Regions from separate parts of the Homo sapiens genome. Here region 1 is linked to region 2. Evidence: fine-mapped expression QTL. A gene starts in region 2. The other region holds a variant in brackets. All regions are shown on one strand. Distances are between the middles of the regions. Region 1 overlaps ZNF446 (zinc finger protein 446). Region 2 holds the start of MZF1-AS1 (MZF1 antisense RNA 1).

Evidence for each region. PIP is the estimated chance that this variant, and not a neighbour inherited with it, causes the effect. A credible set is the group of variants that fine-mapping cannot tell apart.
Region 1: its variant is the best candidate, but not a certain one, in a credible set for the expression of MZF1-AS1 in esophagus muscle (GTEx, PIP 0.73).

The regions. Positions count from the first base shown.
Region 1 is chr19:58,478,994-58,483,367 of GRCh38, forward strand. It overlaps ZNF446 (zinc finger protein 446), which reads left to right. Exons shown (of 7, transcript NM_017908.4): 5 at 650-734; 6 at 937-1,026; 7 at 1,183-2,237. The coding sequence ends at 1,733. LOC112268251 (a long non-coding RNA gene) reads right to left here. Exons shown (of 3, transcript XR_007067366.1): 2 at 2,422-3,453; 3 at 2,104-2,194. Among named protein-coding and RNA genes, the nearest start is that of ZNF446, 4.8 kb to the left of the region's middle. The variant C/T (reference allele first, on the strand shown) is at 2,193.
Region 2 is chr19:58,557,300-58,561,673 of GRCh38, forward strand. MZF1-AS1 (MZF1 antisense RNA 1) reads left to right here and starts at 1,887. Exons shown (of 6, transcript NR_027334.2): 1 at 1,887-2,110. UBE2M (ubiquitin conjugating enzyme E2 M) reads right to left here and starts at 1,312. Exons shown (of 6, transcript NM_003969.4): 1 at 974-1,312. The coding sequence starts at 1,082. RefSeq lists a silencer at 1,237-1,536 and enhancers at 1,667-1,926, 2,072-2,668.

The sequences.
Region 1 (4,374 bases), 78 kb before region 2:
TGGATCGCTTGGTTCCCAAGTGTGGGTAGCAAGGTCTTTTCCTCTCCCGGCTCCTCTAACAACTCCACTGGGGAGCTTCAGCAGCAACATTGCTGGTTGAGATGTGTTTCGAGGCTAAGAAGTCCTTCCAGGCTCCCTCCACAGCCCCATGGCACAGTCAGAAAGTGAGGCAGGGTGGGTAGGCTGCACTTCCCAGTGTCCTCACCTCCAGCCAGCACCATCTCTAGCTGTGGCTCCTCACAGCTGCCGCCTTCCTGCCCCTGGACTTGCCACAGCTTGTCCCTCAGGATTATTTTTCCCAACCCAGCAAAGCCCCAGATGATGGGACTCAGGCAGCAAGGAGGGCTGACCCCCAATCAGGGAGTTCATTCCTCGATAAAGTCACTCAGGTCCCTGTGATGCTGCCAAACCTGCCCTCTGAGCAGGATGGTGTAGTAGAGGGGGATGAGTGCTGGCAGCAGCACTGGTCAGGTGATCTGAAGGAGAACCTCTGCACTTAACAAACACACACCTTGAGATCATTCTCAGCAGGAGGGGCAGATGAGGCGTAGGTAACCTGCTGACTCTTCCGGGTAATAGGTAAGAATGTGAACCAGACAGGGCAGGGAAGGGGTGGAAAGACGCCTACAGTGATGGGCCACATCCGCAGGAGGAGTGGGGGCTGCTGGACCGGTCACAGAAGGAACTGTACTGGGATGCGATGCTGGAGAAGTACGGCACAGTGGTCTCCCTGGGTGAGGACCAGCCAGCCCCACCCCGCCCCTCTCCCTGGGGCCTGCACCCACCCTGCAGCAGGCCTAGCTGGGCAGGGCCTCTGTGCTACCAGCCCTACCCAGCTCTCCCACCTTCCAGAGGAACACCCTGTCACCTACCAGAACCGACCCCACCCCTCCTTCATGCAAACCCCATGCCTAACTGTGCCCCCCACCCGGGCAGGGTTACCGCCCCACCAGCCAGAGGCACAGGCCCAGTCAGAGCTGGGGATGCTGCTCACGGGGACAGGCGTCTGCAGAAGCCTGCGCTCGGGTGAGTGCCCCACACCATCCAGCCTGAATCACCCCTCCTGTATCGGTGGGACCTGAGCCACCCACTCATGGGGGGACGGGAGCTTGTGCCACGGCCACAAGCCTGAGGGAGGGGTTGCTGAGTGCCGGGACTCACCTGGTTTGCCCCTGCCCCCAGGAAATGAGAGTGAGGGTCCACCTGGCTGCCCAGAGGCCCAGCCGCCCCAGGGCCCAGGGCCGGCAGCCTGGGAGGGCTTGTCTGGGGCTGCCACTCCTGCCCCCACTGTGCGCCCAGGGACACCGCCAGTGCCCACTCAGCCCACACCTGCAGAGACGAGACTGGAGCCGGCTGCCACCCCCAGGAAGCCCTACACGTGCGAGCAGTGTGGCCGCGGCTTCGACTGGAAGTCAGTGTTCGTCATCCACCACCGGACACACACGAGTGGGCCAGGTGTGCAGTCCCCGGGGCTAGCCACCGGGGAAAGCACAGAGAAGCCACCACAAGGGGAGGTGGCCTTTCCGCACCACCCCCGACGCTCACTCACAGGCCCCCGGAGTTACCCGTGTGAGGAGTGCGGGTGCAGCTTCAGCTGGAAGTCGCAGCTGGTCATCCACCGCAAGAGCCACACAGGCCAGCGGCGTCACTTCTGCAGTGACTGTGGCCGCGCCTTCGACTGGAAGTCGCAGCTGGTCATCCACCGCAAGGGCCACCGGCCGGAGGTTCCATGAGCAGCCAGACAGCACAGTCCCTCGGGGCCTCGGTGTTCTCGGGGCCTGGATACAGCCTCTGGGGCACCAGCAGAAGACTCTGGAGGCAGCAGGGGATGCCAGAGTGAACAAGGGGTCCCAAGCCAGTTCCCTGCCCCTGGTCTGGTCTCCCCCAAAAGACCTGGGTGCAAGGAAAAGGAGCTGCTCTCTCTCTTCTTGCCCCTGCCTCCTAGAGGGAGGTCTGGGTTCCCTTCTATGGCTGACCAGTGCCTGTGGGGTGACTGCCAAGCACCAGGCTCCCTCCCTCCCTGTGACATGGCCTGGGCTGACAACACTCCCTCTCCTGGGACCTCCTTGCCTCAGGTGGGTGTTCAAAAACTGTGCCTTCCCACTCGTCTGTGCAGAGGCTGGGCCTGAGGTCTCAGTGTGGAGAGCAGCAGAAGACCCAGGAAAGCACAGTTGGCTTCCGTTTCTCCTGCT[C/T]CCTGTGTGTGTTAGAATTTTAACATAAATTCCACTTTCATAATATGGAGTTTCTGAATAAGAATCCTGATTTCTGGCTTCTGCTGGTCGGGAAATAGGCAGTTTGCTGTCTCTGCCCAGTAGCTGCAGCACAGGGCAGTTGAGCCCAGAACGGCCAAACCTCTGTTGCCACAGAACCCAGGTCCCAGGTCCCCAGCCTCCCTTGCTCCTTGCCGCCCACATCACTCACCAGCCTCACTGGCCTTGGAACTCATCAGTCCCGGCTTGAGAGACACAAAGGGGATTTCCTTTCGAAGTACGGCTGGACAAGGGGGACCTCTGAGAAGAGGGGCTGCAAGCAGGGGTTGCGCCAAGGCCATGGGTACTTCTAGGTCAGGCCGCACCCTCCATAGTTAGCTGGTCATGCAGCAGGAAGGCAAAAGGTCAGCTCCCTGGGAAGCACCGGATCTCTGGGCAGTCACTGGGGACTCGCCAATGCACTGTATTAGTTTTCTGTTGCTGCTTTAACAAACTTGGCAGCTTGAAACAACAGATTCTCTTATAGCTCTGAAGGTCAGAACTCTGACATGGGTCCCACTGGGCTAAAATCAAGGTTTTGTTTTGTTTTGTTTTGTTTTGTTTTGTCTGAGATGGAGTCTCGCTCAGTTGCCCAGGCTGCAGTGCGGTGGCACAATCTCGGCTCACTGCAAGCTCTGCCTCCCGGGTTCACGCCATTCTCCTGCCTCAACCTCCTGAGTAGCTGGGACTACAGACACCCGCCACCACGCCCGGCTAATTTTTTTGCATTTTTAGTAGAGACGGGGTTTCACCGTGTTAGCCAGGATGGTCTCGATCTCCTGACCTCGTGATCCACCCACCTCGGCCTCCCAAAGTGCTGGGATTACAGGCGTGAGCCACCGCGCCCGGCCAAAATCAAGGTTTTAACAGGACTGGTTCCTCTTGAAGGCTCTAGGAGAGAATAATCCATTTTGTTGCCTTTTCCAGCTTCTAGAGTCAGCCCACGTTCCCCCTTTTTTTTTTCTTGGTCCATTCCTCCGTCTTCAAAGCCAGCCATGGTTGGTCACGTCTTCCTTAGGCTGCCAGCTCTCTGACACCCATCGATCCTTTGGCCTCCTTAAGGACCCTCATCATATCTTGTCCCCTACCTGCACACTTAGTCACACCGCAGAGTCCCTTTTGCCAATTGAGATGTTCACAGCTTCTGGGGATTGGAATGGGGACTCCTTGGGGGCCTTGATTCAGCACTCTTCTCCTTCCTACTCTGAAAACAAGGGGCATTTTCACAGGGGATGGTTTCAGGAAATGGGTGCCCTCTCGGAAGGAGCCCTCGCCAGCTGCTGGTATGTGCAGCATGTGCACAAGTCGCAGGTGGATGTTGAGGGTAGCTGCGACTGTGGTTACCCCAGGAGGGGCTCCCTGGGAGGGGCAGGAACCCTGCTGCGGCCTGAAGCTGGGAGAGGGAGGCTCTCCTCAGAGGCCCATCTTCCCCATCCCCTTTTATGAGGGCCTTCTAACCCGTTGCTCCCATGTGCAGGGCTCCGGAAGCAGGGCCAGTTTGGAGATGGAGCTGGGGGTGGGTGATCTGTGAGCAAGCAGGAGGCGAGAGCTGTGCTGGGGACAGAGAAGAAGAAGACAGAGCAGTACCCAGGGGCTCCAGCTAGGCCCCAGCCCAGAAGGGAGAGTCAGGGTATAGAAGGCTGTGAAAGGGCCAGATCATGCAAGAAAAGCTGCAGGGGGTGAGGGCAGTTTTTAAATAAACTTTTTCACATTTAGAAGCAATTTATGCTCACTTAGAAAAATTTGAAATACACAAGATGGCAAAGAAGATCATGAAAATGTTCCCTAATTCAACTGTCTCATGGCAATGCTTACTCCAGAAGTTTACATATAGAAGTGGTTGAATGTAAAGTTTCTTTTAAGGCAACTTATGTTGTTTCACTTTGGGAGACCACGAGTTCAAGACCAATCTGGGCAACATAGTGAGACCTTGTCTCCAAAAAAAAAAAAAAATTAAAAATAATAGTAGGCTGGGTGTGGTGGCTCATGCCTATATTCCCAGCACTTTGGGAGACCAAGGCAGGTGGACCACTTGGAGTTCGACACCAGCCTGGCCAACATGGTGAAACCTCAACTGTACTAAAAAAAATACAAAAATTAGCCAGGTATGGTGACATGCACCTGT
Region 2 (4,374 bases):
CTGTGCTCCACACCTCCAGCCCTCTCCCTGCTCCCCAGCTTGGCTCTTGTGGATACACAGCATACCCCAAACATGCATGTTCAGCTGTGTATGCGTGTCCCAACTCCTGGCCCAGGGTGACCCCCAACTTTTCTGTATCCACAGCTCCCAAATGCCCCCACTCCCAAACATCCTCTGACCGCCCTAAACCCCAGGCTCCCCATCCATGACCTCCACTCTACAGTATCTACCTGTTCACCCAAACTCAAAGATCCTGCCCACCCCCACCAACCCTCAGTCCTCACTGTCCTTCCTCTTCTCTGTCTCTCAGACCCAGCTTTCCATGTGACCCCCACACTCTCAAGTCCCCAACCCCCGCCACCCTACCCCACCCCCTCTGACTCTGAGGTTCACAGCACAATAGCCTAAATTTCCCCTCACCCCTGTCTCCAATCCCTGGTACTCATTAACCTTCCCTCCTCCACCTGTCACCCCAAACCCCAAATTGCTGTGACTCAGGCAGGCCCATGAGTCCCTGGTCCTCCAACCTACTTCACCCGTTTGACTCAGAGATTCCCAGAGACCCCAGCATAATAAACTAAATCCTCTTCCACTCATATCCCCAACCCCTGGCCTCTACTATCCCTCTCTTCTCCGCCTGTCACCCCAAACCCAAGTTCCCGTCTAACCCCCAGACTCTCGAGTCGTCAGTTCCTCCACTCCACTGCCTGACTCTGAGATTCCGAGTCCCTAGTAGCAGACACCAGGCCTTCCTAATATCCTAAACCACCACATACCGGGCCCCTATCTCTGACCCCCTCCCCGTGACTGCATGATCCCAACCCTCAAGACTTGACCTCCGACCCCCCCCACGCTCGGGGCCCTTCACCTCTGACCCTCAGCAACCGCATTACCCCTTCCTGACTCCCACATCACCCTGCCTCAGGCCCTGACCTCCGACCTCCGGCTCCAACCCCATCCCCTGACCCCCTACCCTTCTGGATCCGCAGCTGCGCCGCCGACGCCTTCTTGCTGCTGCCCTTGGTGCCGCCCGCCGACTCCTCCTCCTTCTTCTGCTGCTTCAGCGAGAACAGCTTGATCATCCTGCCGCCGCCGCCGCCGCTGCCGCCGCCGCGGGGCCCGGGACCCCGGCCACCCGGCCCCCCGCCGCCGCCCGCGTCGCCTCCGCTCCTCGGACCCGCAGCTGCGGCCTCCTCCGCTGCTGCCGCCACCCGCCCGGCCTGCCGCGCCGCTCCGCTCCTCTCCGCGCCCACCGCGCGGCCCGCCTCGGCTCCCGTAGTCCGGCTCCGGCCTGGCCCAGCGCCTCGGACTCGCTCGGCAGCGCTCGGCCAAATTCGGCTGTTCTCGGGCCCGCCCGGCCCCGCCCCCACTGCCCGGGGCCGCTCCTTCCTTGCCCTCGCCAACTCTGGTCTCAGGCCCCGCTGCAGCTGCGGACTCGGGGCTCCCCCGACCGTGCCGTTTGGCCGCTCAGCTGATCCCTCCGCGAGGGGGTGCGGCTAGGGGTGGGAGGAGGACACGGCAGCTGCGGTGACGGCGGGCGGGTACTGGAGGATCGTCTTCCGCGGCAGCAGCGGCTTTAGCGCGGAGGTCGGCAACGGCCTCGGGCGCCCCGCCGCTTCGGATATTTCCGCCGCCTGCCCGCTTTGGCTCTTCCCGCCCGGCCTGCGTTGTGCGCCTGCGCAGCCGCCGCAAACCCGCGTTGCTCAGCGATGGAGTTTGGGGTTCGGCCTCCTTCGGCTGGACTCGGGCATTTCCGTTCATGGAGATGACGCTTCGGCGGCCTTGCAGGTCACTTCCGGCGACTTTCGCGGGGCCGGGCAGGAAGCGGAGTTAGTCGCCATCTTTGAGTGGGGCAGACGTGGGCCGCTTTTGCTCGCGGTCACTTCATCTTAAGTTGTATATATGTGCAGAGCGCGGCGCGGGTGGTCACCTCCGCTGCTGCCGCCACCCGCCCGGCCTGCCTTTGACCCTATGGGTCACAGACAAGGCAGGGTGATCGCGGCAAGACCCTGAGTGAGACTAGATGCGTTACCCAGAGGGTGCGAGGTCGAGTACCTTCCCTGTCCCATCGCAAACCCAAAGATCCCCGTTCCTGGAGATTCTGATTGAGGTAAACTAACAAAACATGTATTGTGCCAGAGAGTGGTAAGCACTGTGGAGGGTTACAGTGGTGTAGGGGAAGACCTGTCGGGGTGGACACTTGGGGAACGCGACGTGGGGGCGGAATCGGGCCGCTATTGGCGTGGGCCTCAAGTTCCAGCGGACACGCACTGCAGCCTCTGCGCTTCCCCCACTATCTGGAAAAGGGGATGGAGGCGGGGGTCAGCTTCCCATCCAATCACAGCTCAGCGTGCCTCGGAGGGCGGGAGGAAACGGAACTCTGCCGGTCAGCGACTTCCGGCCGTCACCACGGAAACTGCCAGCCCCGTGAGCGCATGGTGTGGCACTTGCCTGCGGAGGGGCCCAGGCGCCACTCCTCTGATTCTGCAGATGCTCCCCCAGGAGTGGCTTCTGGCCAAGGCCAAGCCCCTTCTTTGAAACTGCCTTTCAGCCTGTGTTACCTGCACCCAAGTCACCCACTGGAGGGTTGGGGGAGAGGGGCTGTGTGAAGGACCTGGACAATGGGATGGAAGGGGAAGATGGCTAGGGCAAAACAGGCAATGGCACTGGGTCCTGGAGACGCTGCCCTGAAGCCTGCAGTATGCTGAACTTATGCTCTCAGCATCTGTCCACTTTCACCTAAGCTGCGTTTCCACTGGTTTGCTGCTGAATCTACTCCTGACTGAAACCTTCCAATGTGCATGGGGCCAGGGTGGGAGAAGCCTTCAGCTCTAGCGATGGGAATGATCACCACAGGGCAGGGAAACTGGCCCAGGGCCTGCAGCCTTTGCTTCTCAGACTGGCTGGGGTTCCATCTGCAGGGTCCTACACCCTCATCACCTGCTGCTTGTGAACACGAGAACAGGAAAGTCTTGAAAAATCTGAATTTCCAGGTGAAATCTTCTAGTTTTAAAACTAGGAAATGGTTTCCTAGGTGTAAAGGAGTTTTACAAAGACATCCTGAGGCAGAATCTGGATCACCAGGTGTCAGTTTGCTCCTGCTGGATCGCATAATCTTGGTTGGCTAGGGAGATTCTGGCCTGTCTGGGTCCTTTCCTGGGGTTTGGCTTGGCCCATGGCCCAGGGGACAGCCGTGACAGGGTGTGGAGGGGAGCATGCAGGTTGCAGGCATCAAGTTTAGGCACAGTACCACCCACAAACCTGGGGGTTGGCAGATCCAAGTGGGATCCTTGGCTCCCAGCTGTAAGAAGTGCTGTGACCCCACTGCTTCCCTTTGTTCCTCTAGTACTAAGGGTGAGATGCTGAATGTCCCCATGAGTACAACTCTTCAGCGGGTACTCCTACTGATAGGTAGATAAAGGTAGAAAGCTTTGGCCGCTCAGGACCACTTTAGGGAGTAGGGTGCTGTTAGGGTAAGGGTAGCTGTACAGCTGAGCTGGGGTGGGAGAGGTAGTATCATGGGAATGAATCATTAACGCTGACTTGGAGCAAGGAGGACTGGTGCTCAGGAGGCTGGTAACCTCCCTGAGGATTGAGTGTTCTCCCAGCCCTTGGAGGCCCTGGTCTCAGTGTCAAGGGAAAATCCCATGGGATTTCATCACCAGACAAGGCTGGGCTCCAGACCTACCCACCTAGGCATCACTGTGCAGGGCAGAGACTACAAACACCTCTCTTCACTTGCAGATCTGTTAAGGGCAGGCTGGAACAGGGGTTGGAAAGGGAGAAGAGACTAGGCCAGCACCACCTCTTCCCCTTGGCAACAGCAGGTCCTTCCAGGAGCAACAGTTTTTACATACCTCCCAGAACCAGGCTCACTGGGCCCCTTGGAGACACCCACACCAGTGCCCCCTCAGGAGTCTCCTAGGCCTATGGGGCACCCTCTTGAGAACAGAGACCTCCAGACCAGCTGAGCAGTACCCCCTCAGGCCCACAGGGCTTCCCTGCCAGCTAAGAGACCCCAGGACTGGCTCAGCAGTGCCCTCTTCTCAGGGGCCTGAGTTCCAGCTCCATGGGAAACTCATTGGAGCTTCTAAGTTGCAATGCTTCCCTTTGTTCCTCTAGTCCTAAGGGTCTAGCTGCTTCCTGCAGGAACTTTCCCATTTCTAAGACAGATTGACTTAACCTTCTCACTCTCCCATCAATCACCTAACACCTAGTTAGCTGTGCTCTGTCTCTTGATGGGACTCAATCAGATCAGGCATGGCACCATGCTATGCACATATGTACTCTTGGTGGATGCTCACAGAGAACATTTCTTCCTCTCTGGGTTTGAGAAACCGAGGTCCATTGCCCAGGGAGAGCTGAAGCTGGACT